2 linked regions of the Homo sapiens genome follow. The protein of the gene in region 1 purifies or fractionates together with the protein of each later gene. This does not show direct contact. Each region holds a gene or a part of one and is shown in the gene's direction. Other genes may lie near its edges. The genes, in order: ZNF254 and CYP24A1.

What was found.
Region 2: the proteins of ZNF254 (region 1) and CYP24A1 purify together in Homo sapiens (affinity purification with mass spectrometry; 2 studies listed by BioGRID and IntAct, with this or other methods). This does not show direct contact.

Annotation. Positions count from the first base shown.
Region 1 is NC_000019.10:24,077,751-24,093,843, forward strand, and holds the start of ZNF254 (zinc finger protein 254), read left to right. Parts: upstream 1-9,436; 5' UTR 9,437-9,557; coding exon 9,558-9,587; intron 9,588-14,150; exon of another isoform or gene 14,151-14,265; intron 14,266-16,093. UniProt on the Homo sapiens protein: May be involved in transcriptional regulation.
Region 2 is NC_000020.11:54,148,130-54,164,027, reverse strand, and holds the end of CYP24A1 (1,25-dihydroxyvitamin D(3) 24-hydroxylase, mitochondrial isoform 1 precursor), read left to right. Parts: intron 1-1,165; coding exon 1,166-1,311; intron 1,312-4,904; coding exon 4,905-5,071; intron 5,072-5,863; coding exon 5,864-5,942; intron 5,943-6,442; coding exon 6,443-6,640; intron 6,641-6,738; coding exon 6,739-6,849; 3' UTR 6,850-6,859; exon of another isoform or gene 6,860-9,266; 3' UTR 9,267-10,582; downstream 10,583-15,898.

The DNA of each region.
Region 1 (16,093 bases):
GGTTTTTTTGGTCTTGTGATACAGGGTGTGTGTGTCTAAAGGAGTGGAGGGCAGGGTGGGGAAAGGAGGTGACAGGCAGGTTCCTGGAGGTCACCTCCTGGCATTATTCTTGTGGATTGCCAAGTTTCTTGTTTGAATTTGTTTCTTGTTAATAGTACATGTGTCCTCAGCAAGGAGGTGAAAATAAAAAAAAAGAGCTTGGAACAGTCTCAGCTCTGTGAGGTCTGCACAATTTATCAAGCCCAGAGAGATGAGACTGTGGAACTTCACCCAGGGGCATTTTTTGTTGTTGTTGTTGTTTGTTTTGAGACGAAGTCTCACTCTGTCACCCAGGCTGGAGTGCAGTGGCATGATCTTGGCATGCTGCAACCCTGCCTCTTGAGTTCAAGTGATTCTCCTGCTTCAGCCTCCCACATAGTTGGAATTACAGGCACATGCCACCACACACGGCTGATTTTTGTATTTTTAGTAGAGATCGGGTTTCACCATGTTGGCCAGGCTGGTCTCCAACTGCTGATCTCACCTGATTTGCCCACTTCGGCCTCCCAAAGTGCTGGGATTAGGGGCAATTCTTTAAAGACATTTACTTTCTGACTAGCAGTCTCACCCATTATTTCTTTATTAGGAATTTGGAAAATAAAAGAATATATGCAGCCAATCAATAGCTTATGCATTTAAATATGAATTCTTGGTAAATAACTTAGGAACTGCCTTCTCACTTTTTCAAAAAGACTCACTTTCAATGGCTGCTAATTAAAATATATATTCAGGGCAACTTAAATCTGTCCTCCTCTTGGCTATCCTCAATATCTGACATTGAGTAAATGTATTTCAGGTTACATTTTAACCTTTTTTATTATTTTAAGTTGACTGAGGGCTGGCCTGGAACATTCTCCTTGGTATAAATACTCCAACTATAAGCTACCTGCTCAGTAGAGGAAACTAATCAACAGCAGGGCCTAGCATAGGTCAAAGACACAAGCAGTGGGAAGCTTTTTGGGGCCTGGCTCCTAATTGCAAGGACAGTTGCACAGGTGTCTCTGAATGCTTAGACAGCCTGGCCTTTCCTGACCCAATGCCCCCCATCAGCTTTTTCAAGCACATCTTGATCTTTTGTCATTCTGTTCTCTGGGGTGAAAACTCATCGTCAGGGCTGTCTACAACAAAACAGAAGTATCAGGTTACTAAAACCTCAGGAACAGAGATTACGGATTGGGTTAAGAGTGTGCCCTTTCTTAAGGATGGTACGCATGGAAAAGCAGCAAGCAGTTTCAGAAAGATACAGGAAAAATTGCCTCTAACGGATATTTATACTTCAACTCAATTTATTCTGTAAGTGGTAGGGAAAATGGGATAAAATACCATATGTTCAAGCATTTTTGCTTCTCAGTCAGAATGAAACCCTGCAGCAGGCATGTCCATGTTTCATGAGAGAAATAGAAGAAAAAGAGTTGGACATACAAGATGATCCTTATTTCAAGCCCCCCTGCCACTTGGTTCAGCGGGCATTTTTGGGTGAAGCAGAACCTTTCTGTCAGGTCTGAAGGTTCAGATGTGTTGGTCTTTTTTCCCACTAATACACCTGAAAGTTCTATTGAGAACCATTTGTCCCTCCTCCCTACCCTTCTAGTCCCACTCTGTACCCACCACTCCCTGAAGAACTTAGCCCAGTGAGTACTACTCATAGTGGAGCTGCCTATCAACCTCCAAGGGGAAATCTTTGTCCACCTACAGAGGTTGCAAATGGGGAAGAAGGCCTGTGAGAGGAGGTGTCCCCTTTTCTCTGTCTGGTTTGGCTCTATAATAAGACAAGTTTGGTCATTTCTCTGAAGATGCAGGAAAATTCATAGGTGAGTTTGAGAAGTTAACTCTGACCTACAGTTTAACATGGCAGGATCTGTACATTTTGTTGTCTCTGTGTTATACAGTGGAAGAAAAACAATGCATTTTGGGGACAGCTAGGACTCATGCAGATGAGGTATTGGCTTGCAACCCGAACCATAATATATATCAGACAGGAGGTATAGCAGTTCCAGATCAAGATCTAGAGTGGAACTATCAAAGGGGGTGTGAGGACTTGGAAGAAGAGATCATATGGTCACTTGTTTGTTGAAAGAGATGAAGAAATGTATGAAAAAACCTGTTAACAATGAAAAGGTTAAGCAACTTTCTCAGGGCAAAGATGACAATCCAGCTTTGTTTTAATAGTGTTTAGTTGAGGCAATCAGAAAATATACTAACACTGATCTTGCCTCAATGAAAAGATAGACCCTTCTGGGAGTACATTTTATAACCCAGTCTGCCCCTGATATCCATAGAAAACTACTAAAAGCAGCTATGGGTCCCCAAACTTCTCTGGAACAGCTTTGGATATGGCATTTTTAGTTTTTAATAACAGGGACAAAGCGGAGGTAGCGGAAAGAGGAAGAAGGACCTCCCACAAGTTGCAGGTCTTGGTTGCAACCTTAAGCTAACCTCCCACATGGGGTTGCCCTCCTGGGTCTTGGGTTGAACAAGGGAAGCTGAAAGGTGGGAAGCCTAAACCTGGGTGTCCGAGTCACTGTGCCTTGGGCATAAATCAGGTTGCACACTGTAAGAAAACTGACCACTGGAAGAGGGTTTGTCCAGTGTTCTGAAGAGAGCCATCAGCACGTGAACTAATGATGGGTAAAACAGCCAGGCAAGCACCCAAGAGTGACGGGGACTGAGACCTTCCACCACGGTTTCCATCAGACAACTAGCCATATATCTGGAAAAGCCTCAGTATTTTTTGCCATGGCAGTTAAGAATATGAAGTTTCACCAGGTGCGGTGGCTCACACCTGTAATCCTAGCACTTTGGAAGGCCGAGGTGGGTGGATGACTTGAGGTCAGGAGTTCAAGACTAGTCTGGCCAACATGGTGAAACCCCATCTCTACTAAAAATACAAAAAATTAGCCAGAAATTGCTTGAACCTGAGAGGCGGAGGTTGCAGTGAGCTGAGATCGTGCCACTGCACTCCAGCCTGGGAAACAGAGACTCCGTCTCAAAAAAAAAAAAAAAAAAAGGAAGCTAGATGAGTTGCGAGTTGCCTCATGCCTGTAATCCCAGCACTTTGGGAGGCTGAGGTGGGTGGTCGGGAGTTCGAGACCAGCCTGAGCAACAAGGAGAAACCCCATCTCTAGTAAAAATACAAAATTAGCTGGGCGTGGTGGCACATGCTTGTAATCCCAGCTACTCAGGAGGCTTAGGCAAGAGATTCACATAAACCCGGGAGGCCGAAGTTGCAGTGAGCTGAGATCATGCCACTGCACTCCAGCCTGGGCGACAGAGTGAGACTCCTTCTCAAAAAAAAAAAAAAAAGAATATTAACTTTCTTCTGGACTGCTTACTCTGTTTTGACCCATTATAATGGGTCTGTTTCACCCCCAAACTGTATGGTCACGGGGATAGATTGACAAGCCCATAGATGCCATTTTACATAATCTCTAAGCTGTTTTTCAGTGACTTCGGTTTTCTTACATAACTTCCTTATCATGCCCGGATGCCTCAGGGAAGTCGTAGCAATTTCTCTTTCAGTAGATAAAGCCAATAAACTGGCTTTAGAACAACATTCTGAGGTTTAAGCCCACACCAAGTATGAGGAGTTCTATAAGCCAAAAGACACCAGTGGATGACAGGGGACACTTATTGAAATAGCAGACATTTTGCTAGACACTCCAATTAACCTGATATGAGGTGCTAATCAATAAAAAATAGTTAAACATTTGCATGACTCTACTCATTTGGGAATAAATTCCCTGTTTAATATCTCGGCTTTTTATAGAAAAATAATTACTTAAAAGAGTAAACCAGGTAACCCAGGCCTGTGAACTATATGCCTGGAACAACCCAAATGACCAATGTTTACCTCCTCCTTTAGTAAGGCCTGTTCAGCATAGAGGAGCATACCCTGGTGAAGACTGGCAAATAGACTATACTCAGATGCCCCCGTGTAAAGGGTTTAAATATTGATTAGTATTCATTGACACCTTTACCGTTTGGATTGAGGCTTTTCCTACCAAGTCTGAAAAGGCAATCAAGGTTTCTAAACTACTAAAAGAAATAATTCCGATGGGTACAGTATCTCACGCCTGTAATCCCTGCACATTGGGAGGCCAAGGCAGGTGGATCACCTGAGGTCAGGAGTTCGAGACCAGCCTGGCTAACATGGCGAAACCCCGTCTCTACTAAAAATACAAAAATTAGCTGGGTGTGGTGGTGTGCACCTGTAGTCCTAGCTACTCTGGAGGATGAGGCATGAGAATCACTTGAACCTTGGAGGCAGAGGTTGCAGTGAACCAAGATTGTGCCATTGCACTCCAGCCTGGGCAACAAGAGTGAAACTCTGCCTCAAAAGAAAAAAAAAAAAAGATAATATCGAGTCTCGCAAAATATAGTAATTAAGAAGATTCTTTATCACAAACCCTTGTGGCAGAGCACATCTCCTCATAGGTAAAAACATTGTAACTATGGTAAATGTGTTCCTCAATAGTAAATTAATTATTAAACTTATTCAAAATTATTTTATTTAATTTTTCAGAACAATGCTTATGTTTTGTATAGCTAATTGCTGTAATTCTTTAACAAAAACTGGGCCAGACACAGTGGGTCATGCCTGTAATCCCAGCACTTTGGGAGGCCGAGGCGGGCGGATCACGAGGTCAGGAGATCGAGACCGTCCTGGCTAACACGGTGCAACCCCATCTATACTAAAAAAAAAAAAAAAAAATTAGCCAGGCGTGGTGGCGGGTGCCTGTAGTCCCAGCTACTTGGGAGGCTGAGGCAGAAGAATCTCTTGAACCTGGGAGGCGGAGGTTGCAGTGAGCCCAGATCGCGCCAATGCACTCCAGTCTGGGCAACAGAGTGAGATTCCATCTCAAAAAAACAAAAAAAAAAAACCCAAAAAACTATTTGATTGATGTCTCATTACAAAATGTATAAAAGCAAGCTTTGCCCCGACCACCTTGGGCACATGTTCTCAGAACCTCCTGAGAGCTGTGTCACAGGCCATTGTCACTCATATATGGCTCAGAATCAATCTCTTCAATTTTTTTTTAAACCATCTGTGACAAACCCACAGCAAACATTAAACTGAACAGGAAAAAGTTGGAAACATTTTCTCTGAGAAATGGAACAAGACAATAGTGCCCATTTTCATCACTTCTATTCAACATAGTACTTGGAAGTCCCAGCCAGAGCAATTAGAGAAAAGAAATAAGTAGCGAGCCTCCAAGTTGGTAAAGAGGTAGTCAAATTGTCACTGTTCACTGATGTTACAATCATATAATTAGGAAACCCTAAATACTCATAAAAAAGCATCTAGATCTGATCAATTCAGTAAAGTTTTAGGATACAAAATTAATGTGCACATATTAGTGGCATTGGTATACACCAACAGTGACCAAACTGATATTTAAATCAAGAACTCAACCCCTTTTAAAGCAGCTGCAAAAAAATAATACTAATAATTAGGATTATCCCTAATGAAGGCCATGAAAGATCTCTACAAGAAAAACTGTAAAATATGTCTGAAAGGTATCATAGATGACACATACAAATAAAAACACATCCCATGCTTATAGATGGGTAGGGTTAGTATTGTAAAAATCATATTACCAAAAGCAAGCTACAAATTCAATACAATTCCTATGAAAATAACATCATAATTTCCTCACATAACTAAAAAACTCTAAAATTCATATGAAACAAAAAAGAACCTGCATAGACAAAGCAAGACTAAGCAAAACAAAAATAAACTCAAGATGGATCAAAAATGTTAAGACCTGAAACTATAAAAATTGTAGAAGGTAATACTGGAAAAACTCTTCTAGACATTGGCTTTGGCAAAGCGTAGATGACCAAGAACCCAAAAGCACATGCAACATGAAACAAAGACAGATGAGACTTAATTAATTCTCAAAAGAAGATATACAAATGGCCAACTAACGTAGATAAAAATGCTCAACATTACTAATGATTAATGATCAGGAAAATGCAAATCAAAACCACAATGTGATACCACCTTATTCCTGCAAAAATGACCATAATTAAAACATCAAAAATAATGCATGTTCGCATGGTTTTGGTGAAAAGGGAATACTTTTACATTGCTGGTGGGAATGTATACTAGTACAACACTATGGAAAACAGTATGGAGATTCATTAAAAAATTAAAAGTAGAACTACCGTTTGATTCAGCAATTCCACTACTGGGTATCTACATGGTGAAAAATAAGTCATTATATGAGTAAGATACTTGCACATGCATGTTTATAGCAGCACAATTTGCAATTGCAAAAGAATGGAAGCAGCCTAATTAATGCCCATCAACTAATGAGTGGAAAAGGAAAATGTGGCATATACCACATTTTCTTTATATATATATAATATATATAAATAATATATAATATATTTATAATAATATATATACACCAATGAATGCTACTCAATCATAACAAGGAATAAAATAATAGCACTTGCAGCAACCTCAATGGAGTTGAAGAACATTATTCTAAGTGAAGTAACTAAAAAATGAAAAAAACAAATATTGTATGTTCTCACTTATAAGTGGGAACTAAGCTATGAGAATGCAATGGCATAAGAATTATATAATGGACTGTGGGTACTCAGTGGCAAGGGTAGGAGAAGAGTGACGGATAAAAGACTACATATTGGGTACAGTGCACACTGCTTGGGAGATGGGTGCTCCTAAATATTAGAAATCACTACAAAAGAACTTATCCATGTATCCAAACATCTTCTGTACCTTAAAAACTTTGGAAATAATAATAATAATAATAAACAAAAAATAATCCCAAACCCCGTAAGTTTAACTTTCTATGCTTTGGCTGTTTTTGGTTTATTTTTTATTTTTTAGAAAGGGTCTCACTCTGTCACCCAGAATAGAGTGCAGTGGCTTAATCAGGGCTCATTGCAGCCTCGACCTCCTTGGTTCAGGCAATCCTCCTCCCTCCGCCTCCTGAACAGCTGGTACTAAAGGTACAGGCCACCATGCTCAGTTAACTTTTGTATTTTTTTAGATACATGTTTTTGCCATGTTGCCCAGGCTGATCTCAAATTCCTGGGCTTAAGCAGTCTTCATTTCTTGGCCTCCCAAAGTGCTGGGATTATAAACATGAGCCATCATGAGTGACCACAATCTTTTTTTTTTTTTTTTTTGAGACAGAGCCTCACTCTGTCACCCAGGCTGGAGTGCAGTGACCTGATCTTGGCTCACTTCAACCTCCTCCTGTCAGGTTCAAGCGATTCTCCTGCCTCAGCCTCTGAGTAGCTGGGACTACAGGCACGCGCCACCACGCCCAGCTAATTTTTGTATTTAATAGTGGAGATGGGGGTTTCACCATATTGGCCAGGCTGGTCTTGAACTCCTGACCTCGTGATCCACCCACCTCGGCCTCCCAAAGTGCTGGGACTACAGGCGTGAGCCACTGCACCCAGCCCAGAATTTTTTTTAACATGATATAGAAAAGCTAACTATATTTAGATCTGTTACTTAACAGAAAATTTGAATAAACGTCTTTTATTAAAAAACATAAAATTTTTTATCTACAAATATTGATACAAAACAGTTCAAAATTACTTCCTAGGGGTTTCACTAAAAATTAGTTTGTTAAGGGTATATATATATATATATAAAAACTAAGATTTCTAGGTGTAAAACAATTTTTTTATAGAGAGTGTATAAACAAAGGCCAGGCGCAGTGGGTCACGTCTGTAATCCCAACACCCAACACTTTGGGAGGCCAAGGCAGGTGGATCATTTCGAGCTTAGGAGTTTGAGACCAGCCTGAACAGCAAGGCAAATTCCAGTCCCTACTTAAAATACAGAAATAAACCGGGCATGATGGCTTACACCTGTAGTCCCAGCTACTCCAGAGGCTGAGGCTGGAGAATCGCTTGAACTTGGGAGGCGGAGGTTGCAGTGAGCCAAGATTGCGCCACTGCACTTCAGCCTGGGCGAAAGAGCAAGCCTCTCCTGGAAATAAAAAAACAGTGTATAAACAAAAGCAAAATATGCTTTTGATGAAGAAAGTTAGAAACATTTTGTCTACTTTGAAATTATTTAAAGGTTGTTTCAAATTGAAAATATAAAAATAATGTAGATTAAAATACAACATAAAAATTTAAAAAATGGCCAGGCACGATGGCTCACGCCTGTAATCCCAGTAATTTGGGAGGCTGAGGCGGGTGGATTACCTGAGGCCAAGAGTTCGTGACCAGCCTGGCAACATAGTGAAACCCCGTCTCTACTAAAAATGCAAAAAATTAGCCAGGTTTGGTGATGCACGCCTGTAATCCCAGCTACTCGGGAGGCTGAGGCAGGAGAATCGCTTGAACCCAGGAGGCAGAGGTTGCAGTTAGCCAAGATGGCGCCACTGTACTCCAGCTTGGGCGACAGAGCTAGACTTCGTCTAGACAAAAAATAAAAAATAAAAAAAAGTATAAGAGATCATAAAATATGTATAAAAATCTAGAATGGTCAAAAAGACAAATTTGATGGACTTTATTTTTGTTATTTTATTTTATTTTTTGAGACAAAGTCTCGCTCTGTCGCCCAGGCTAGGGTGCAGTGGCAGGATCTTGACTCACTGCAACCTCAGCCCCCCGGGTTCAAGGAATTCTGCTGCCTCAGCCACCCGAGAAGCTGGGGTTATAGGCGTGCGCCACCATGCCCAGCTAATTTTTTTTTCTTTTATTTTTTTGAGACGGAATTTTACTCTTGTTGTCCAGGCTGGAGTGTAATGACGCGATCCACGCTCACTGCAGCCTCCACCTCCCAGGTTCAAGCAGTTCTCCTGCCTCAGCCTCCCGAGAAGCTGGTATTACAGGCACGTGCCACTACGCCCAGCTAATTTTGTATTTTTAGTAGAGATGAGGTTTCACCATGATAGTCAGGCTGGTCTCCAACACATGACCTAATGTGATCCGCCCGCCTTGGCCATCGAAAGTGCTGGGATTACAGGCGTGAGCCACCGCGCCCAGCTGATGGATTTACTTATAACGGTTTATCAAATTAGCTTTAGTGCTGATAATACATTATTACTAAAGTAAAAGTTGATTTTCTCTTGAACAAAAATTATATGTATTATTAATATACATAAAATATGTTTGTTCACATTTTGAATACATTGAAAAAGAGAGAGAGCAAAAAAGATATAGAATTTTCCCATGCTCTGGGGTGGGCCTGGCTCAGCTCAGGGAGGAAGCCCTGCCCGATAAGGCTGCAGCTTAGGCTGTCACTCTTTCTTCAGCCTAGGGTGTGATCACATCTTCTATCACTCAGGGTCTGAGTAGGCGGGGCCTTAAACGTTATCCAACTAGGGACGTTGGGCTGGGAACTGTCCAATCAGGCACACAGCTGGACTGGACAAAGCGGCTTCCGGGATATGGCGGGGCCTTTGTCTCTCGCTGTCGCCGGAGTCCCAGGTCTGTCTTCACTGCTCTGTGTCCTCTGCTCCTAGAGGCCCAGCCTCTGTGGCGCTGTTACCAGCAGGTATTGGAGATCCACAGCTAAGATGCCAGGACCCCCTAGAAGCCTAGAAATGGTGAGAATGCCAGTCCGACATCCCGAGAGAGGGGAGGGGGCTGGTTGGAACTGGTGGGAAGCGGCTGTGGCGGGACTCAGGCCTCCCCCCAGTCAGCTCCACAATCTGCGCCCAGCTCGACCTCAGTCCCCTTCAGAAATAAGATGGCGGCTGCGCTGACAGCCAGACCCCCAGGAGTCCTGTTTCTTCCCTGCGCAGTGACTGTGCCCTGTCCTGGAGCCCTCTCTGGGCAGCTGTGGACCCGCAGCCCCGCGTCTCTCCCAGATTGTTCAGGGACCCGGGGAGGGTCGTCAGGGGAGAATCCTGACTCGGGTTGCGGGTTCATGAACGGGAAGAGCTTTGGTCTGTGGGGTTCCCAGGCCCTCTTTTTTCCCATTAAAAATTTATGGGCGTCACTGCAAAAATATTAAATACTTTAATAAAAGAATGATTCAAAAATTGTACCACACCCAGCTGTGGTTTGTACTTTTGTGGTCCATGGAAGGGGCCTGAAGAAAAGATTGTTACAAGGTTCATGATAAAGAAAACCAAATTCAATAATTGGCTAGGTACAGCAATCTAGGTTGTCGTTTTTTTTTTTTTTTTTTCTTTTTTTTGAGACAGAGTCTCACTTTTTTGCTCAGGCTGGAGTGCAGTGGTGTGATCTCGACTCACTGCAACCTCCGCCTCTTGGGTTCAAGCGATTCTCCTGCCTCAGCCTCCCTAGTAGCTGGGACTACAGGCGCCCGCCACCACAATTTTTTTATTTTTAGTAGAGACGGGGTTTTACCATGTTGGCCAGGCTGGTCTCCAACTCCTGACCTCAGGTGATCCACCCACCTTGGCCTCCGAAAGTGCTAGGATTACAGGCGTGAGCCACCGTGCCCAGCCTCGTTTCTTAATTTTTACATTTAAGGTGGGAATATCCTGGTTATGTAATCAGAGCTTAATTGTCAGCTTATTCTTGGTTAAGCAAGAATTTTGTTTCCGCTAATGTAGTAATTTACCAAAAAATGCTCTTGAGTTTAGATTTTTTTTTTAGAAGTAGAAATCCGGGGACTAGAGCCACCTCAATCTAATTGCCTGCCACTTAATTATTTTCACACTCCACAGGGGACTGCTTTTTTCCTGAAATTTTCACATGTATCCCAAGCAGGGCCTCAAGTCCACCCCTCATCCCCTATTCCTCCAGCCTAACTCTGGCTTGCAGGAAAATACTAAATTTCCCGTTTTGTCTGACATTCCCAAATGCCAATGTCCCCTCCCTAATTCACTTTATCATCTATTTGTCCTTTAGGGTAGATTTTGATACCTGTTTTAATTTTTATTTATTTATTTATTTTAATTTTTGAGACAGAGGCTTGCTCGGTCACCCCGGATGGAGTGCAGTGGTGCAGTGGTGTGATTTAGGCTCACTGCAACCTCTGCCTTATGGGATCAAATGATTCTCTTGTCTCAGTCGCCCAAGTAGCTGGAATTATAGGCGCCCGCCCCCACGCCTGGCTAATTTTTGTATTTTTAGTAGAGACCGGGCTTCACTATGTTGTCCAGGCTGGTTTCAAACTCCTAGCCTCAAGCGATCCGCCTGCATCAGCCTCCCCAAGAGCTGGTATTACAGACGTGAGCCATCTCGCCTGGCCAATTAATCTTTTTTTTTTTTTTTTTTTTTTTTTTTTTGAGACAGAGTTTCACTCTTGTTGCCCAGGCTGGAGTGCAATGGCACGATCTCGGCTCACCGCAACCTCCGCCTCCCAGGTTTAAGCGATTCTCCTGCCTCAGCCTCCCTAGTAACTGGGATTATAGGCATGTGCCACCATGCCTGGCTAATTTTGTGTTTTTAGTAAAGACAGGGTTTCTCCATGTTGGTCAGGCTGGTCTCAAACTCCCGACCTCGGGTGATACGCCCGCCTTGGCCTCCGAAAGTGCTGGGATTACAGGCGTGAGCCACTGCACCCGGCCAATTAATCATTTTTTGACAAAGCATTTGATGGCACATTTAAAAAGGTTTGTTTTCTTTTTGTAAATATTTCCTATGAGAAGAAAGCAAAGAATAATCTCCTGACACTGTATTGTAAAATATCTCTGCGTTTTTTTTTCTTCTATCTTCCCTAGTCACAGATATCTTATCAGAATGTTTTTGGGTCAAGTTTTCCTTTTGGAAACTATAGTGTGATGTGTCTTCAGTCACCATTCGGTTTTCTTGGACCTGGGTTTCAGTACTGTATTGGGATAAACGAAGATACCCACCATGGCTATGTCTGCTTAGAGTGTCTAGTAAATATCAGCTTCTGGGTCATATTCTCTCATAGGAAAATCTGAGGTATTGAGTGTAGCGTCCCAAGTGCGCAGGTGGATGCCCTGAGTCTAAAAGGCATTTCCTAGTGCACTTTTTTTTTTAAAGCTAATTTTATGAGACATTAATATTGTCTTCACCCAACCCAGCTTTCATTTCTTAAAGACACATTGCTGGTCAGTCAATCAGATACCAGTATTGAGGAGAAAACAAATAATTTCTGCCTCCTGGTTTCCTTTAGAGAACAGAAAAATAGTAAAAAATTTCTAGAAAACAAAACAAAACAAAACAAAAACGAGGGCCAGGCATGGTGGCTCATGCCTGTAATCCCTACACTTTGGGAGGCCAAGGAGGGTGGATCACGAAGTCAGGAGTTCGAGACCAGCTGGCCAACATGGTGAAACCCCATCTCTACTAAAAATACGAAAAAAAAAAAAAAAAAGCTGGGTGTAGTGGTACAGGCCTGTAATCGCAGCTACTCAGGAGGCTAAGGCAGGAGAATCAGTTGAACCTCAGAGGCGGAGGTTGCAGTGAGTGGATATCACGCCACTGCACTCCAGCCTGGGCGACAGAGTGAGACTCCATTTCAAAAACAAAAACAAACCGCAAAAAACTGACCCCAGTGAGATGGTGTAAGAACTTGCAGAGTAAAATGCGCCTGAGACACTCACTGGGGCATAGTTCAGAGTCTCCTGAGAGGGGGTTATTGAGCACTTTAGTGAGTAGGATGGGGTGGGACAGTCTCTCAAGTAATTGGATGGCCTGACTTGACACATGATTAAGACATATCTGTGTCTTGAAAAGGTTTTTTCACTTATTTTGACCTAAGGCTTGTTTTCGTTGTCTTGAGACAGTTTCCCTCTGTCACCCAGGCTGGAGCGCAGTGGTACCATCTCGGTCCACTGCAACCTCCAGATCTTGAGTTCAGGTGATTCTCATGCCTCAGCCTCCCAAGTAGCTGGGACTACAGGTGTGCACCACCACACTCAGCTAGTTTCTGTAGTTTTAGTAGAGACAGAGTTTCACCATGTTAGCTAGGCTGTTCTCAAACTTCTGGCCTCAAGTGACTCACCTGCCTGAGCCTTCCAAAGTGCTGAGATTACAGGCGTGAGCCATTGTGCCCAGCTCACCTCGGTTTTTTAACTGTGTATTGCATTTTATTAGTAGAGCTTGAAAGGTAAGAAAATATTTGCAAAGGGCATAAAAGAGGTGAGTTTCAAAAACATTAATATCTAATAATATATTTTATTTGTTGAACATTTTCATTTACCTTTTTCTTTCTCAGAGTGAGTTTAGGAAGTTTCTCGGACATGTTTTTTTTTATGGAGGAGTGATTTTTTTTTTTTTTTTTTTTTTTGAGACAGAGTCTCACTCTGTCGCCCAGGCTGGAGTGCAGTGGCGCCACTTTGGCTCACTGCAACTTCTGCCTCCCGGGTTCGAGCAATTCTCCTGCCTCAGCCTCCTGCGTAGCTGGGATTTCAGGCACACACCACCACACCTAGCTAATTTTTGTATTTTTAGTAGAGACAGGGTTTCACCATGTTAGGCTGGTCTTGAACTCCTGACCTCGGGTGATCCGCCCGCCTGGGCCTCCCAAAGTGCTGGGATTACAGGCATCAACCACCGTGCTTGGCCTATGGCTGAGTGATTTCAAACAGAATTCCATCTAGCTTTTAGAATGGTAGCTACCAAGGAAAAAAATAAAGAAAAAAAAAAAAAAATCTCTCTTCAATTTCAGCTGTAGACAATGAATACATTTCCACAAAACAATGTGATAGATAATTGATGAGTTAAATAGATTCCTGAAAACTTCAATTCCTTTTTTTAGCAGGGTAAATCCTTGGTAGTGAACATCTTTGTTCTATATCCTGTGTTTTTTTGTGTGTTTGATTGTTTTTTGAGATAAAGAGTTGCACTGCGACACCCAGGCTGGAGTGCAATGGTGCAATCTTAGCTCACTGCAACCTCCAATTCCCAGGTTCAAGTGATTCTCCTTCCTCAGCCTCCGGAGTAGCTGAGACTGCAGGCCTGTGCCACCACACCTGGCTAGTTTTTGTATTTTTAGTAGAGATGGGGTTTCACCATGTTGGCCAGGCTGGTCTCGAACTCCTGACCTCAAGTGATCTGCCCACCTCAGCCTCCCATAGTGCTGGGATTACAGGTGTGAGCCACTGCGCCCAGCCCTATATCCTGTTATTTTGATTTTTGAGTTTAATGCTAAATTTTATGTGATGAAACTTGGTACCTCCTAGAAGTGTTCCTATGTGATTAATTTTTTTTTTTTTTTTGAGATGGAGTCTCGCTCTGTTGGCCAAGCTGGAGTGCAGAGGCGCAATCTCAGCTCACTGCAAGCTCTGTCTCCCGGGTTCACGCCGTTCTCAGCCTCTCGAGCAGCTGGAACTACAGGTGCCCGCTACCACGCCCAGCTAATTTTTTGTATTTTTAGTAGAAACAGGATTTCACCATGTTGGCCAGGATGGTCTCGATCTCTTGACCTCGTGATCCACCCACCTCGGCCTCCCAAAGTGCTGGGATTACAGGCATGAGCCACTGTGCCTGGCCTTTTTTTTTTTTTTAAATGGAATTTTGATGTTGTTGCCCTGAGTGGAGTGCAGTGGGCGATCTCGGCTCACCTCAACCTACACCTCCTGGGTTCAAGCAATTCTCCTGCTTCAGCCTCTCGAATAGCTGGGATTACAGGCACCCACCACCACCATGCCCAGCTAATTTTTGTATTTTTAGTAGAGATGGGGTTTTATCATGTTGGCCAGGCTGGTCTTGAACTCCTGACCTCAGGTGATCCACCCTCCCCCCCGGCCTCCCAAAGTGCTGGGATTACAGGTGTGAGCCATCACGCTGGGCCAAGCAATCCTCTTGTACCTCAGCCTTCCACGTACCTGGGACTACAGGCATGCACCACCATACCTAGGTAATTTTTGTTTTTGTATTTTTTTAGAGATGGGATTTTTCCATGTTGCTCAGGCTGGTCTCAAACTCCTGAGCTCAGGCAATCCACCTGCCTTGGCCTCTCAGAGTGCTGGGATTACAGGCATGAGCCATTGTGCCTGATCATACCATATTTTCTTTATTCAGTCTACCATTGATAGGCATTCAAGTCGATTCCATGTCTTTGCTATTGTGAATAGTGCTGTAGTGAACACCCTTGTGCATGTGTGTTTATGACAGAATAATTTATATTTCTTTGGGTATATACCCAATTATTAGGTTGCTTGATGAAATGGTAATTCTGTTTTTAGTTCTGTGAGAAATTGCCACACTGCTTTTTACAATGGTTGAATTAATGTACACTTTAACAGCAGTGTATAAGCGTTCCCTTTTCTCTGCAACCTTGACATCATCTATTTTTTTGCTTTTTAATAGCCGTTCTCACTGGCATGAGATTGTATCTCGTGGTTTTTCTTTGCATTTCTCCAATAATTATTGATAGGCATTTTATTATATGTGTGTTAGCCACATGTTTGTCTTCTTTTGAAAAGCATCTTTTTCAAGTTTTTTGTCTGCTTTTTAGTGAGGTCTTTTTTTTCTTGTAAACTTAAGATTTTTATGAATTCTGGACATTAGACCTTTGTTAGAAGCATAGTTTGCAAATATTTCCTATTATTCTGTTGGTTCTCTGTTTTCTGTGTTGATAGTTTCCTTTGCTGTGAAGAAGCTCTTTAGTTTAATTAGGTCCAATTTGTCAATTTTTGGTTTTTTTGCAGTTGCTTTTTGTATCTTCAATTATGAATTCTCTGCTAGATTCTATGTCTAGAATGACATTTCCTAAGTTATCTTCCAGGGTTTTTTATAATGTTAAAATAAACATTTCAGTCTTTAATCTTGAGTTGATTTTTGTATATGGTGTAATAAAGGGGTCCAGTTTCAATCTTCTACATAGTGCTTGCTAGTTATTCCACCACCATTTATTACATAGGGAATTGGTTCCACATTTCTATTGTCACCTTTGTTAAAGATCAGATGGTTGTAGGTGAGTGACATTATTTCTGGACTGTCTATTCTGTTGCATTGGTCTATGAGTTTGTTTTTGTACCAGTTCCATGTTGCTTTGTTTACTGCAGCTCTGTAGTATAATTTGAAGACAGGTAATGTAATGCCTTCAGCTTTGCTGTTTTTGCTTGTGATTACCTTGGCTATTCAGACTCTTTGGTTTTATATGAATTTTACAATAATTTTTTTTTTTAGTTCTTTTAAAAATATTTTGGTCATTTGATTA
Region 2 (15,898 bases), on another chromosome or scaffold:
GGAGGCGGAGGTTGCAGTGAGCCAAGACTGAGCCACTGCACTCCATCTTGGGAGGCAGAGTGAGACTCCATCTCAAAATAAAAAAGTAAAATTTATAGAGTCAGGGACTCCTGAGTTCAAGTTCAGCTCTGTCACTGGTTGTGGTGGCTTGGCCAAATGTGCAATCACCTTTTCATCCTCAGTTGCCTTGTCTCTAAAATGGACTAATAATTAATAATAATAATAAGAGAACCTACCTCAATGTAACTGTTTCTGGGTCTACTACAGATTACAGTTAACATAAAAACCTGGCATATCACAGTATCTCCGTGGACTAGATCTATTTCTGCCACATGACGAAGGGGAATATTTGATGCTAGGCATTGTTCACTTACACATTTAGTTAATCCTCACAACACACCTATAAGGTAGGTCCTTTTATTAGCCCTGAGAGGGGTACCTGAGACACATAGAAGTTAGCCAACGTTCCCAAGATTGCATGCTAGGTGATGGCAAAGCCAAGGTTTGAAGCCAGACAAGGAGCTTCCAGGACTCGAACTCTAACTGCTGTGCCATATGTGATCAGCATGATTATTACCATATAATGAGCCTGGTGGTTGTTTGCTTAATAGTGAGGGAGGTACACGCCTAGATTTTATGTTATAAATATTAGAAATTTTTACCATTATTGTCAACATGGATGGACACTCTACTTGTGCGTATGTATGTGGGGTATGTGTGCTTAGTAATATCTGGGTCCAAGTTGGATTCTGAAAGTGAACCCAAATCCTACCTTCTTTTACACTTTTTTCTCCCAAGATCTAAACTCTTACTACTCAAAACTATGACCTGCAGCCCAGTGGCATCAGCATCACCTAGAAGCTTATTAGGAATGCAGAGTTCCAGGCCTACCCAAGCCCTGATTCAGATTCTGCATTTTGAGAAGATGCCTAGGTGACTCCTATCCACATTAAAGTTTGAGAAGCCTTGCTCATGTCGGTATTGAAAAATCCTTGCCGACTTGACAAGAAGGCAATAATATAATTAGTGTGTGTAGCAAATTGTCAGTGTTCCTGAAAAGACTATTTAGATATTGCAAGAAGGAGTTTGGACTGAGGTTTTCTTCTGTGATTTTCCTCATCCCAATTTTCAGCTGACTTCCTCTCTTTCTTCTCTGCTCTAATAGTCAAAGCTTGTATCGACAACCGGTTAGAGAAGTATTCTCAGCAGCCTAGTGCAGATTTCCTTTGTGACATTTATCACCAGAATCGGCTTTCAAAGAAAGAATTGTATGCTGCTGTCACAGAGCTCCAGCTGGCTGCGGTGGAAACGGTAAGGGTGGGCTGGATTTGAGTTTGCTAAATGAACGGTCTGTACCATTTTTAGATGACAGATTTTAAATAGTAATTCATCTCATTCATTTCACTGGGATTCACTAGCATCAACTCCACAAAAATGAAAAGTCTCATACTAGATGCCACGGTGCCTCCGCGCACAGCATCTATGCCACGGTGCCTCAGCGCACGGCCTCATACCAGACGCCACGGTGCCTCCATGCACGGGCTTCTGTGCTTAAACTCTGGGTAGGAGGAGACTTCATGTGCCCCAGTGACAAAAAGCCAGAGTAGGATGTGATGAGTGCCATGATGTCCATGCAAACTGCTACGGGAGTTCAGGAGCAGTAAAGTTCTCTGCCCTGGCAAGATACAGAATCCAGATTTTTCAAAATTGGAAGTATTTTGTTCAGTTGCACATGTTACCCCAAAGTGCCTAACTGTGGCTGTTACTTACTGTAAAAAAAAAAAAAAAAAAAAAAAAAAAAAAAAAAGGCATACTCTCTTTCAAGCCAATAATATTTTTATCTGCTTAGAATTGTAAACAAAGTCCCAAAGAGTCTGGGACAAGTGGATTTTAACTGAAGCAAAACAGCTCATTGTAAAGACCAAAATTCTGTCTCTGATGTGGCCGATACTCCCTAGGAGATAGCAGATACTAAGTGAGACCAACCCCAAACAAATCCTGCCATAGGCATTCAGGTAGGTTTAATTGACTTGGATACTAGTTCGAGCTGTGATGGGAGTGGCGCACGCTAACCTCCTCCTAAGTCCAACATTTCATGCACCTTAAAGTCTCTAAGCAAAATGTAAAGCAGTTGTTTATTTTCCATGTGCTTCCCCTTCTGTGCTGTTTCTTGCCTGAAGTAAAGGTAGGGTTTTCTCTATCAGGAGATAGCGAGGTTCTCATTTCTCCTCCTGCTCCACAAGGCGGTTGAAAGTGGGAATCCATCCTCGCTCACTTTCCTGTTGAACTGCTTACCCTGGGTGGCTCCTTCCAGTGATCAAAGTACAGTGTCACCCATTATTCTTTTATTTTTTCAACTGGAACGTGACCTCTCTGAGGGCAATGGCTTAGAGTTGTCCACTGCTGTGTTTCCAGGACATAGAACAGTACTTGGCATCTAGTAGCGGCTGATAGATACTTGTTGAATAAATGAAGGAATTCAGGAACTATTGAGTGCCTACTGTATGCCTGGGACTGTTCCAGGTTCTTGAGAGACCACCATGAACCAGAGACAAGGGTTCCCACTCTCATGGAACTTGTATGCAAGTGGGGAAGACAGACAGTAGCCATGTAAACAAACAAATGTGGTCACTTTAGATAGTGGTGTGGATTGTGGAGGACGCCATCAGGATGGTGTAATATAGAGAGATGGAGATGATTAAAGGGAAGCCCTCTCTGAGAAAGCAGTACTGGAGCTGACTCTGGAATAATGAGAAGAGCCAGCCACAGAAAGACCTCGTGGAAGAGCGCTGCAGGTAGAGGAAACGGCCCATGCAAAGGCCCTGGGGCAGAAAGAGGGATGGAGCTACAGAACTAGTAAATGTGGTCAGAGCTGAGACTGGAGAATTGGATGGGCCATGTTAGCCAGAGCCTTGTGAGCCCAGCCTGGGTAAGGCATTAGATTTGATTGCACCTGTGATGGGAAGCTCTTGCAGCATTTTAAGCAAGGGAATCACCTGATCATTTATGTTTTTAAAAGTGGGCTCTGGCTGGTGGATGGAGAATAGACTTAGCCAAGAGAGTGGGTACAGCAGGCCAGTCAATGAGCTTGGTCTGTTCCATGGAGGTCAATCAAGGATAGTTTGTGCCCCTGAGGTTTTCCAGGCCACTTCCCCTCAAATCAGCTGCTGCAGCTTAGCCCCTGCAGTTTTCCCTACAGGCTCAGACTGCCTTACGTGGCTTTGGTAAAAGCTACAGTCATCTGCCCTTTGGAAACTCTATTTGGTACTTGCGGTGAGGGACTCACTGATATGGTTAAATCTGTTTCTTTTTTGGTCCTGGCTATTCTGAAAGTCACATTTGGAAAATCAGAACCATTTGAAAGTGTATCTAATTTGATGGCTACACCCTCTTCCTGTTTTGTAAATTAGACTCTTATAATAATGGCATCTACAGTTTATTTGCAGCCGAGGCTGCCAGTCCTCTGACATGAAGAAGACTGCCTTGGAGGCATCTTCTTCCAAAAATAATAAAATAACCATCATCTCTGAATGGTCTTGCACTTGGTGCTCATTTGTGTGAGTGGCACATGGCACTTAGCAACAGCGTCTTCATGTCTGCGGAGGTGGACACAATGATCATTTTCAGGAAATATTTGGCTTAAATTAGCAAAGTACGGCCTAAAAAATAAATACATATGACTACTAGTGGTGAATATTATGTAGCTTAAAGCTACATTGGCTGTTTCCACCAATATTTTTTCTCTAGTCATTGCCTGTGCAGAGGAAATAAAAGATGCCACTTAAAAGGGTGTGGGCCTTTGTCAGAAACTGTAGCTGGAGTACTCAGCTCAATGTTTGAATTTCTTATTTTTGGTGTTGGCACCCTCGTATGAGGGCTGTTTACATGTGGTTGTAACCCTCAGTGTAGGTAGTGCCTGTTTATTTTTGTGGTGACTTTTTAGGGTGTGGCCAAAGGAACTTTTAAATTTCAGAAATGCCATTTATTGTCCATTTCCACTATAACATTCTCTTAAAGCCTCTCATTAGCAACACCCTGAGGATCACCATCCCTCTCTGTTTACTCCATTTTTATATGAATGTTTTTTATATCAAGCAACTTTTAATTAAATGTTTATTTTGAGATCATTGTAGATTCACATTCAGTTCTAAGAAAAAATAGAAAGGGATCCCTTGCATCCGTTACCCAGTTTTCCACTAATAGTAATGTCCTGTCTAACGAGAAAACGTTGTCACAATCTGAAAATTGGCATTGATTTAACCCACTAATATTCTCATTTCACCAATTTTACATGTACTCATTTGTGTTCGAACAATTATTGCGTCAAACTGTATTTTAGGTCAGGCACAGTTGGCTCATGCCTGTAATCCCAGCACTTTTGGAGGCAGGCAGATCACCTGAGGTCAAGAGTCTAAGACCAGCCTAGCCAACATGGTGAAACCCCATCTCTACTAAAAATACAAAAATTAGCCAGGCATGGTGGTGGATGCCTGTAGTCCCAGCTACTCAGGAGGCTGAGGCAGGAGAATCGCTTGAACCCAGGAGGTGGAGGTTGCAGTGAGCCGAGATAGTGCCACTGCACTCCAGTCTGGGTGACAGAGTGAGACTCCATCTCAAAAAAAAAAAAAAACTGTATTTAAATGTTCTAAAGCAGCTGATTAAAGGATTATACTTTGATTCCCTCAGTAAATAATTTAAAATATATCCTTAATTGATATGTTTTATGAAATAAGTCTGCTTTTTTATATATTGGATTTGTCTAAAGGCGTAGCTATAAGGACGCGTGAAAGAGCTTCACTGATACATTTGCAGAATAAGGTGGTGGGCATCACCTTTTTTTCAGCTAATAGTGGTTTAATGCAGTTATTTACAAAAACTCAAGTTTATGTCCATTTGGCTTGCAGACAGCAAACAGTCTAATGTGGATTCTCTACAATTTATCCCGTAATCCCCAAGTGCAACAAAAGCTTCTTAAGGAAATTCAAAGTGTATTACCTGAGAATCAGGTGCCACGGGCAGAAGATTTGAGGAATATGCCGTATTTAAAAGCCTGTCTGAAAGAATCTATGAGGTAAGAGCCTATCTCTGAGCCAATATAAATGTGTTAGAACACTGTTCTCGTAAACACAAAACAAGTGGTCCCCTACTCATGGGCGGCTTCCCCTAGCTAATTAGAAACAATTATCACACTGCAAAAAAATCTTTGGAGCCATATTTCTTTTCTGGCACTCATTTCCTAAATCATTTGGGCAAATTCTATTAAATCTTGGAAAGCCAGTGCCCTCCCCTTTAATTCAATAATCTTGCTACTCTAATGAACGCTGTAAGCACTAATTAAGATAGGGGCATGATTGAAGGTTATGAGATGGAGGCTCACAAAAGAGCTATATTATTATATAATAGGACACAGAGAAAGCTTTGCTTTTGAGCCTCTGGTATAAAACATTTTTTGGAAATTCTTTTTACATCCTTTTGGGAAAACAAAACTCACAACATTTTAGGATTAGAAGGATACTGTCAACTTTGTGAAGAGTAGATTGGAGAAACATAGAACAAACATCACGCTTCAAGGGCTAGCACGGAAACATACACATTTTAGTCTGGAATGAAGGGGGAAAACCAACGTTAACAGTTTACTAAACAGCCTTGCACTGGGGTTTTAACTAACTCAAGAAGATGAGAGGAACAAGAGATACAATTATTGAGAAGAAAAAAACAACTTCTTTAGGAAGATCTGTGATCATGCTGCCTCTTTGAGTATGCACTTGGGCAGCATTTATTTAATCCAATCTGCATTCCCATTGACACTTCAGAGAGAACTTAGACTGTGCTCACCTTTACATCTTTGATTTTATCTTTTCAGGCTTACGCCGAGTGTACCATTTACAACTCGGACTCTTGACAAGGCAACAGTTCTGGGTGAATATGCTTTACCCAAAGGAGTAAGTAGAATTTGTATATTCTATACCTTACAAAACCTTGGAAGATACACTTTGCAAATATTCACCAGATCTCCCTAGACTTTGTACTGGAAAATATTCATTTTGGGAATGCAGAGATGGTAGAGAATAGTTGACATGTTGCATAGTATAGAATTAGAATTCACGGCTATGGAGACAGAGACCTGCATTCAGTTTCATCTTTTATCTGTGTTGTCTTGAGTGAGTTACATAATCTCTGTGAGCCTCAACTTCGTCTGTAAAAGGGGTTTAATAACAGAATCTGCTGCGCAGGGTGGTTGTGAGTATGGTGCACAATTCTAAAGCCCTTTACCTATTTATTACCTGGCACATTTTAAGCACTCAGCGCATGTTGGCAACCATCATTATTATAAATTTGTGGATTTGGCTTTTGATTTGTAAGGTGACAACTTGTGTCAATTTTGCCATTCAAAGGTCTCTTCTGGTTATTTTAAATACTATGTGTCTCTGCATGTGTTTAGACAGTGCTCATGCTAAATACCCAGGTGTTGGGATCCAGTGAAGACAATTTTGAAGATTCAAGTCAGTTTAGACCTGAACGTTGGCTTCAGGAGAAGGAAAAAATTAATCCTTTTGCGCATCTTCCATTTGGCGTTGGAAAAAGAATGTGCATTGGTCGCCGATTAGCAGAGCTTCAACTGCATTTGGCTCTTTGTTGGGTAAAACCTTTACCGGTTTCTGCAATTATGTTCTGTGCTGTTTCACAAGGCAGAAGAAGAGAGGGGTAATTCTGTTTTTGTGTGCGTGTGCATTACAGATTGTCCGCAAATACGACATCCAGGCCACAGACAATGAGCCTGTTGAGATGCTACACTCAGGCACCCTGGTGCCCAGCCGGGAACTCCCCATCGCGTTTTGCCAGCGATAATACGCCTCAGGTGAGCATCTAGGCGGTTCATTATCCTCTGCAAGGTAGTGAGAATGACGAGGGATGAGCTATGCTGGGAAGTCAGCCAGACTGGGGTTTGAATCCCAGCTCACCTCTAACTTGCTGGGTGACCTTGAGCAGTTCCCTAAACTCTCTACTTCCTTTTTTTTTTTCATTTGTAAAATGATGACCCAAAGAGAGTGTATCACAAAAATTTAATATGAATACCAAGTAGTTATTCCTGAGCCTGGCATCAATTAAGTGTTCAGTAAATGCTAGCAGCTGTTCATGGTTTTTGCATGTGAATAGTAAGGGTTGGCAAACTTTTTCCGTAAAGGGCCAGTTGGCAAATATTTTAGGTTTTATGGACCATACAGTCTTTGTCACATCCTCTTAATACTACCTTGGAACATGAAAGCAGCCACAGGCAATTTGTAAACTAATGAGTGAGCTGATGTCCTAGCTTTCTATTGCTGCCACCGCAAATTACTAAAACTTAGTGAGTTACACGACACACATCTATTATCTTACAGTTCTATAGGTCAGAAGTCTGATGAGGCTCTTCCAGGCTAAAATTATCGTGTTGTCGGGGCTCTTTCTGGAGGTTCTAGAGGAGGATCTATTCTCTTGCTAGTTTGGTTGTTGGCAGAATTTAGTTCTTCATGGTTACAGGACTGAAGTCTTTATTTTTTTGCTGCTGTCAGCTGAAGGCGATCCTCAACTTTGAGAGATTTCCCATATTCCTTGGCTCATGAAACCTTCCCCAACTGAAAGCCAGTAACAATGGTTGGTTGAGTCCCTCTCACACTTTGAATCTCTCTTTCTTCTTACATTGCTTCTGTCTGACAAGATATTATCCAGGATCATGTCTCCCATCTCCAAGTTCATAAATTTAATTTCATCTGGAAAGCCCTTTTTTTCATATAAGGTAGTATATTCACGTGTTCCAGGGATTAGGGCATTCACATTTTAGGAGATCTGTTATTCTGCCTACAAAGGCTGTGTTCTGATAAATTTTATAAAAAACAAGCGGTGGACTGTATTTAGCCCTAGGGTCTAGGTTTGTGTTATGCAACCACATGTAATATAAATGTATATATTTATCAGCCTGTATTGAACACAATAGAATATTTTTTCTGCAGTATGCCATTCAATACTTTTTCTGACAATAGAGGAGTTCTCATGTTCCCTCCACAACTTTTGCCATGTCCATATACCAACCAGGTGCTATTTATTTCAATACTACTGAGTTATTTCCTTTAAATAACATAAGCCAAATAGCATATGTTGGCCTCGTCCTGAGTAATAATTTCCTTAATGAAATTAAGAGTTAGTAAGTCTAGTTATGTTCTCCTAATAGACATTACAATGAATTCAAAACTATTGAAGTGATCAAAAGTTAGCCTAAGAAGGCCCTAATTTTTTTTTTTTTTTTTTTTTTTGAGACAGTGTCTCACACTGTCACCTGGGCTGGAGTGCAATGGTGCAATCTCAGCTCACTGCAACCTCCGCCTCCTGGGTTCATGCGATTCTTCTGCCTCAGCCTCCCGAGTAGCTGGGATTACAGGCAGGTGCACACCACCACACCCAGCTAATTTTTTGTATTTTTAGTAGAGATGGGGTTTCATTATGTTGGCCAGACTGGTCTTGAACTCCTGACCTCGTGATCCACCCGCCTCGGCCTCCCAAAGTGCTGGGATTGCAAGTGTGAGCCACCACCCCTGGTGGTGGAAATAAGACATTTGTAACATATGGCTTTATAGGCTGACATGTCGGTGTTTAAACCCGGATTCTATCATTGTGTTCTTTTAGCAGCACCTTCTAGGATTTTCCTAGAAAAAAATGCTGTTTGCCAATGGCAAGTTAAGGAGCATTTGCTTATTGGTAGATTATTTAGAGAAACATGCAATTACAGATGAAATTTCTGAACAAGGCCCAAATGAATACATTATTATTCCTCCACCAAGTGTCTGATGCTATTATGAAATTTGTCAAATTCTGAGCATCCCAACCAACAGAACTGAATCAAGTAGGGTAAGGAAAGTATTCTAGCTGCATTGTGACACCCCAGCCTTCAGCAAAGAGCATGCATGTTTATCACAGTAAGCCACACCTTTTAAGTTTTAGCATTTTTTCTTTGGCTAATAATTTGTCTTGTTTAAATACACTTCTTTGATATACAATTAGGGTATACCTTTTTTTTTTTTTTTTTTTTTTTTTTTTTTTTTTTTTTTTTTTTACCAAGACCAAAACAGCCATTTCAACTTTTCTGCAAGAATGGTGCTTATGGCTTCTACGTTACCGGAAAGCAAACTTCAAACACCACACCATACAACAGCTTATAAAGAATATTTAGGCCCAGGTGTTGATACTTTTTCTTCTGCAAAATTGTTCCAGAAGCTGTACTGTCTTTCTAGATGGTGGTATTTGCTAACATCATATCCAACTCAGGGAAGCGGACTGAGTGCTGGGATCCAAGGCATTCTACAGGGTTCACTGCTGGTTTACACTTCACCTGTGTCAGCACCATCTTCAGGTGCTTAGAATGGCCTGGGAGCCTGTTCTGTCTTGCATCTTCCATGACATGAAAGGGAGGCTGGCACTTGTCAGTCAGGTAGAGGTTACAAACCGTTTCAGGCCCTGCCTACCACATTCACTGTTTGAATCTTTAATTCCCAAGAATAAGTTTACATTTCACAATGAATGACCTACAACAGCTAAATTTTCTGGGGCTGGGAGTAATACTGACAATCCATTTACTGTAGCTCTGCTTAATGTACTACTTAGGAAAATGTCCCTGCTTAATAATGTAAGCCAAGCTAAATGATGGTTAAAGTTATCAGGCCTCCCATGAAATTGCGTTCTTCCTGCATTGAAATAAAAACATTATTGGGAAACTAGAGAACACCTCTATTTTTAAAAGGACTTTAACGAAGTCAAACAACTTATAAGACTAGTGATTCACTGGGGCATTATTTTGTTAGAGGACCTTAAAATTGTTTATTTTTTAAATGTGATTCCTTTATGGCATTAGGGTAAAGATGAAGCAATAATTTTTAAATTGTGTATGTGCATATGAAGCACAGACATGCATGTGTGTGTGTGTCTGTGTGTGTGTGTCCGTGTATGTGTGTGTGGGTTCTAATGGTAATTTGCCTCAGTCATTTTTTTAATATTTGCAGTACTTGATTTAGGATCTGTGGTGCAGGGCAATGTTTCAAAGTTTAGTCACAGCTTAAAAACATTCAGTGTGACTTTAATATTATAAAATGATTTCCCATGCCATAATTTTTCTGTCTATTAAATGGGACAAGTGTAAAGCATGCAAAAGTTAGAGATCTGTTATATAACATTTGTTTTGTGATTTGAACTCCTAGGAAAAATATGATTTCATAAATGTAAAATGCACAGAAATGCATGCAATACTTATAAGACTTAAAAATTGTGTTTACAGATGGTTTATTTGTGCATATTTTTACTACTGCTTTTCCTAAATGCATACTGTATATAATTCTGTGTATTTGATAAATATTTCTTCCTACATTATATTTTTAGAATATTTCAGAAATATACATTTATGTCTTTATATTGTAATAAATATGTACATATCTAGGTATATGCTTTCTCTCTGCTGTGAAATTATTTTTAGAATTATAAATTCACGTCTTGTCAGATTTCATCTGTATACCTTCAAATTCTCTGAAAGTAAAAATAAAAGTTTTTAAATATTTGAGAGACTTCCCCTCTTTATTGCCTTTGTTACAACAAAATAAAAACAAATTCAAACTTTATTTTACTGGTAGAAAATTTTCTCATATGGCCTACAAGCCCTATATCACAAAATTTACCCTTAGATAAATCTAGACTTTAATAGCAGTTTTACTGAAAGTTTATTCTTGTAATTGCAAAATAACTTTCCATTTTGTTGCTGCTTAAATATTTCCCAAGTCCAGTTACTTCTATCTCTACCCCCTTTCCAATCACACAATCAGTCACACACTGGTTGTGTGATTGAAAGGGGGGTAGAACGGCCTGGGAGCCTGTTCTCTCTTGTATCTTTCATGACATGAAAGGGAGGCTGGCACTTGGCAGTCAGGTAGAGGTTACGAACCATTTCAGCCCCTGCCTACCACATTCACTGTTTGAATACTTAATTCCCAAGAATAAGTTTACATTTCACAATGAAAGACCTACAACAGCCAAATTTTCCGTGGCTGGGAGCAATACTGACAATCTCTTGCCTGGACCACTAATATCTCTAGTCTCTGCAGGAGCTCCCAGCTGATCTCAGTCCTCTCTTGCTTCCTTCCCCTCTGTTCTTTGCACACTTGCCTTACTGGTCTTTTCAAACCCAAACCTGATCATGCCTCATCCTGCCTCTGGGGCTTCCCATTGCTCTTACGTAAAGATCCGATTCTGCAATCCACACTTCCAGGCCCTATCAACTGAGGTCCCACTGATCCCCCAGGCCTCAGCCCACATCATCCACCCCCAGAGGCCTCTGGAACCAGGCCACAGTGGCTTCTGCCAGTTTCTGCTGTTCCTTAAATGCTAGCAAGAGGGTTCTTCCCACCGTCTCCCTCCCGGCATGCTCTTTCTCTGCCTGTTCTTCTCCTACGCACCATCTACGTCCACCCAGCTTTCATTTCCTGAAGGAAATCTTCCTTGATGACTTAGATCCCACAGGGGCTGTCCCCAGCACCGGGATTCATTAGGGTTGTGATTCCCAAGGAGACCTGTGCGACTGTGGGGACAGCAGGATGAGGAAGGGAAAGAAGCCAAACAAGCGTGTGGTTTTGAGTGAAGTTCCAGCCTCAGCCTGATCTCTGGGAGCTCTGGAGTGTACATTGCAGCTCAGTTTGTTCTCCTTGTGCCCAGGGAGCAGGGCTTCCACACTCCTTCAGTTCAGGCTGCACCTTGGGGTATAAACTCTAAGATACTTCTAGACTTTACATGTCCAGGCAAAATGGCTATAGTAGCCAGAAGGTAGTCTTTGAAGAAGGCTGCAGGTGCCAGCCATGAGGAGCAAAGCATGAAAAACCTGGGCGAAGGGCACAAAGACCGGCAAATGGGTGTGAGGAGCACAGGGTGGAGCAAGGGCCACGTCTGCTGCCCCTCACCTCCCTGAGCAGGTTGCCTGGAGCCGACACTGACATGGCCAATGTGGTCATGATGATAATAATATTTATTGACTGATCTTGCTGCCCCAGTCTCTCCTCTGTGCACTTGCTACATATGAATTCACAAATCCTTGTCACTGCCCTGTAAGTAGATGTGATCATTCTTCCCATTTCACACCTGGGGAAACTGAGGCACAGAGGTGCTCAGTAATCTCCTTAGAATCACAGTTAGTATGTAGGGAAGCCAGGATTCCAACAAAGATAGATTGGTTCCCGGACCTGTGGGATGCACGTCATGTACTGCTCATCTCTACTAAAAATACAAAAAATTAGCTGGGCGTGGTGGCACGCGCCTGTAGTCCCAGCTACTTGGGAGGAGAAAGGCAGATTCTCCTGAGGCAGGAGAATTGCTTGAACCCAGGAGGCGGAGGTTGCAGTGAGCCGAGATCATGCCACTGCACTCCAGCCTGGCGACAGAGCAGGACTCTGTCTCAAAAAATAAATTAATTAAATAAAAGTATACAAAATTGATGGGATTAGAAAAATCACTATTTGGCAACTAGATTTGAACCAAACCAAATGTATCAAATTTAATCTGTGGATTTGTAGTTTCCAGTATTTAGGGTAAAACCTCCCATGATTAGACCATTGGGTTGATGGAGTCCACTGTATTTTGTAATTGTCCTGGTGATTCTCCATCAGTCCCAAGAAGACTCTAAACAGAAAAGTAAATTAATTTCCTGTATTAACATGCTAAAAGGCACTCCCACCAGCGCCAGGACAGTTTACAAATGCCATGGCAACATCAGGAAGTTCCCCTATATGGTCTAAAAGGGGGAGGAACCCTCAGTTCCGGGAATTGCCCACCTGTTTCCTGGAAAACTCATGAATAGCCCACCCCTTGTTTAGCATATCATCAAGAAATAACTACAAGTCTACTCAATCAAGCAGCCCATGCTACTGTTCTTCCTGTGGAGTAGCTATTCTTTATTCCTTTACTTTCCTAATAAACTTGCTTTCACTTAAAAAAAAATTAATTTCCCATAAGTCTCTTAGGTTCTGCTCCACAAGTAGGTAAAACTGATCGTGTTTGTATTTTCAGATGGTGTAATTGTCTCATTTTTCCCATTTGGGCCCAGCACATTTCTTTTGACAGGTTCTGCCCCTGTAAAGGGAGTTGTTTGACTTTTGCCTCTCTGATTGAGGAAATAAGAATTTGGACACCATCCCTGCTCTATGCTCAGCACCGAGCTACGTACATTTCAAATTTTCTGATCTTCATGAGAACACTTGTGCATCGCATATGTTAACGTCCATTGAATAGCTAAGGCTCAGAGAGGTTAAGTAAACTCCCCATGTCACACAGTTGGGAAATGACTCCTCTAGAATTAAAACCTGGTGAAGTTAACAACTTTAAAATCTAGGGGTTTTTTGGCTGGGCACGGTGGCTCATGCCTGTAATTCCAGCACTTTGGGAGGCCGAGGCCGATGGATCACCTGAGGTCAGGGGTTCGAGACCAGCCTGGCCAACATGGCAAAACCCCATCTGTACTAAAAATTAGCTGGGCATGGTGGCAGGTGCTTATAATCCCAGCTACTTGGGAGGCTGAGGCAGGAGAATTGCTTGAACCTGGGGGGCGGAGGTTACAGAGAGCCGAGATCATGCCACTTCACTTCAGCCTGGGCAAAAAAGTGAAATTCAATATCAAAAAATAAAATAAAATCTAGGATTTTTCCTGCTATATCAGCATGAAGTTTAAGGGGTATGGAACTCACAGGTGTTTCATTAGCGAGAAAGCGCACTGGGGATTTAGGTTTGAAAGTCAACCAGAGTAAAAATTTCTTAGAGTTACGGTAAACTTTACATCCCTTCAATTATCTGTAAAGTATACCGTAAACACATAGTTTCATCCCTCATTAACCCATTTATGCCAGAGGTTGCAAATTTTTTTGTGAAAAATCAGACCTTAGCGATGACCTTAAGCAGTGGGATTTCAATAACTCCCAGAAGCTTAGCGTTCCACTAATGGAACACTAGGCATAAATGGGTTTTAATCCACAGAGGATTCCTTCCGGTGTTGGAAAAGCTTTCTGCTCTAGTGGGTGAAAACAACCTAAAGTAGTTGGCTTATGTCTAGGGGCCATGTCACATGAAAAATGCACTTCCTCAGATGCTAGAACCACACCAAGGGCATCAGGAGCTCACATTTTGAGATGTGCATGAGAAATAAGGCAAGAGGTGGATCTCGTTTCTCATCTTGCTGTTCTCATTGAGTGAGGGTGTTGGAATCACCTGGGCTACATCCTTCCATAGTCATCTTTCCACTCCAAGCATGGATGGTTGGATGTGCCTGGGTTAAGTGTGCATATAATGCAACCTCACTCCATCCCCTGTGTAAGTAATTTCCCCATAAATAATTCCTACTCTCCGGGGGAGCAGTACCTGGTCTGTAGAATCCCTGCTACAAACGTTGAGGAATTCCTTTGATCTCTCCATTTCCTCCTTCATTTTTTTTTCCTTTCTCTCTTTTTATTTTTCCCTTCCTCTCTCTCAAAAAAATTATTTGGACATCACAAAAGCCAACTGGACTGAATTCCATATATATTATTGTGTACTGGTTTCCCACAAATATCCCTGGAAATTTTGTTAAAGCTAAAATATGGAGTCAGCCTTGAGGGAGACAGAATAGGGACCAGAAAGGTGTCATAATAAGCTACGAGCACTGAGCAGCGTGTGTTACTGATGACAATCACAATTGCCCTGAGTCACTAAGCATCTACCCTGTGACAGGCACTGTATGACCTGGTAATCTAGAAGACCTTGGAGAGGAGGATTTACAACTTGGCACGAGTCCTGGGAAATTTGCCTAGCTTTATTGGTTACCATAAATGGTGGTTGTAAACATTACAACTAGGACAACCAGGTAAAAGGAAATATTTAATGAGTGCCTATGAAGATCTGTAAGCCAAGCATCATGGGTACAGGGGCAAACCAAAATAAACATGTCCCTGCTCTTACGCCATCTGTATCCTACTACGGAGGATGGGGAAGAACAAGGGGAGGAAATGTCAATCAAATAATCACAGAAATGCATATAAACTTGCTATTGTGGTGAGCTATGTAGGGAGTTTCACCATGTTGGCCAGGATGGTCTCGATCTCTCGACCTTGTGATCTGCCCACATCGGCCTCCCAAAGTGCTGAGATTACAGTCGTGCTGTCAGGAAGAATTAATTATTTATAATTTATGTCTATTTATGTCAGTGCGAGCTTGCAGATTCTTATGTTTTTGAATGGGTTATAATTTTTACACTGTCATTATTCATTTTGATATTCAGATTGCCCCAGATTTGATTAATGGGAGCCTCTTTAAATAGGTTCCTGTGCATTGTTGCTGGTTTTTTGTTTGTTTGTTTGTTTTGACATGTTGTTACCATTTTTGAGCACTTCCTGCTTTCTGGAACAATAAAATATTCCAGGCTGATCTTGTACTTTACCTGCCCCACCGTGGAATCATCTGTTTCTTCAAGAAGTCCTAATTTGTTTCAGTAGAAAAGAACATTTAGAAATCGAGATTTTGGCTCCTGGTGCTTGTTGCTACTGGGATGTTACTGCTTCTAGGCAAGCTCAGCATTCAGAGTTAAGACGTGTGTGTGTGTGTGTGTGTGTGTGTGTGTGTGTGTGTGTGTCTGTGTGTCTGTGTATGTAGAAAGAGAGAAAAAGAAGGACAAAACCAAAGTAGTAAAATGCAAATGCTTGAAGAATCTGGGTGAATGGTATATGGGAATTCTTTGTACTGTTCATGTAACTTTTCTGAAATTATGTCAAAATAATTTAAAAGAAAAATAGGCCTCCATCTCAAAAAAAAAAAGAAAAGAAAAGAAAAATAGGCAGTGTATCGAGGTGGTTAAGAACTGGGTGCAGGCCGG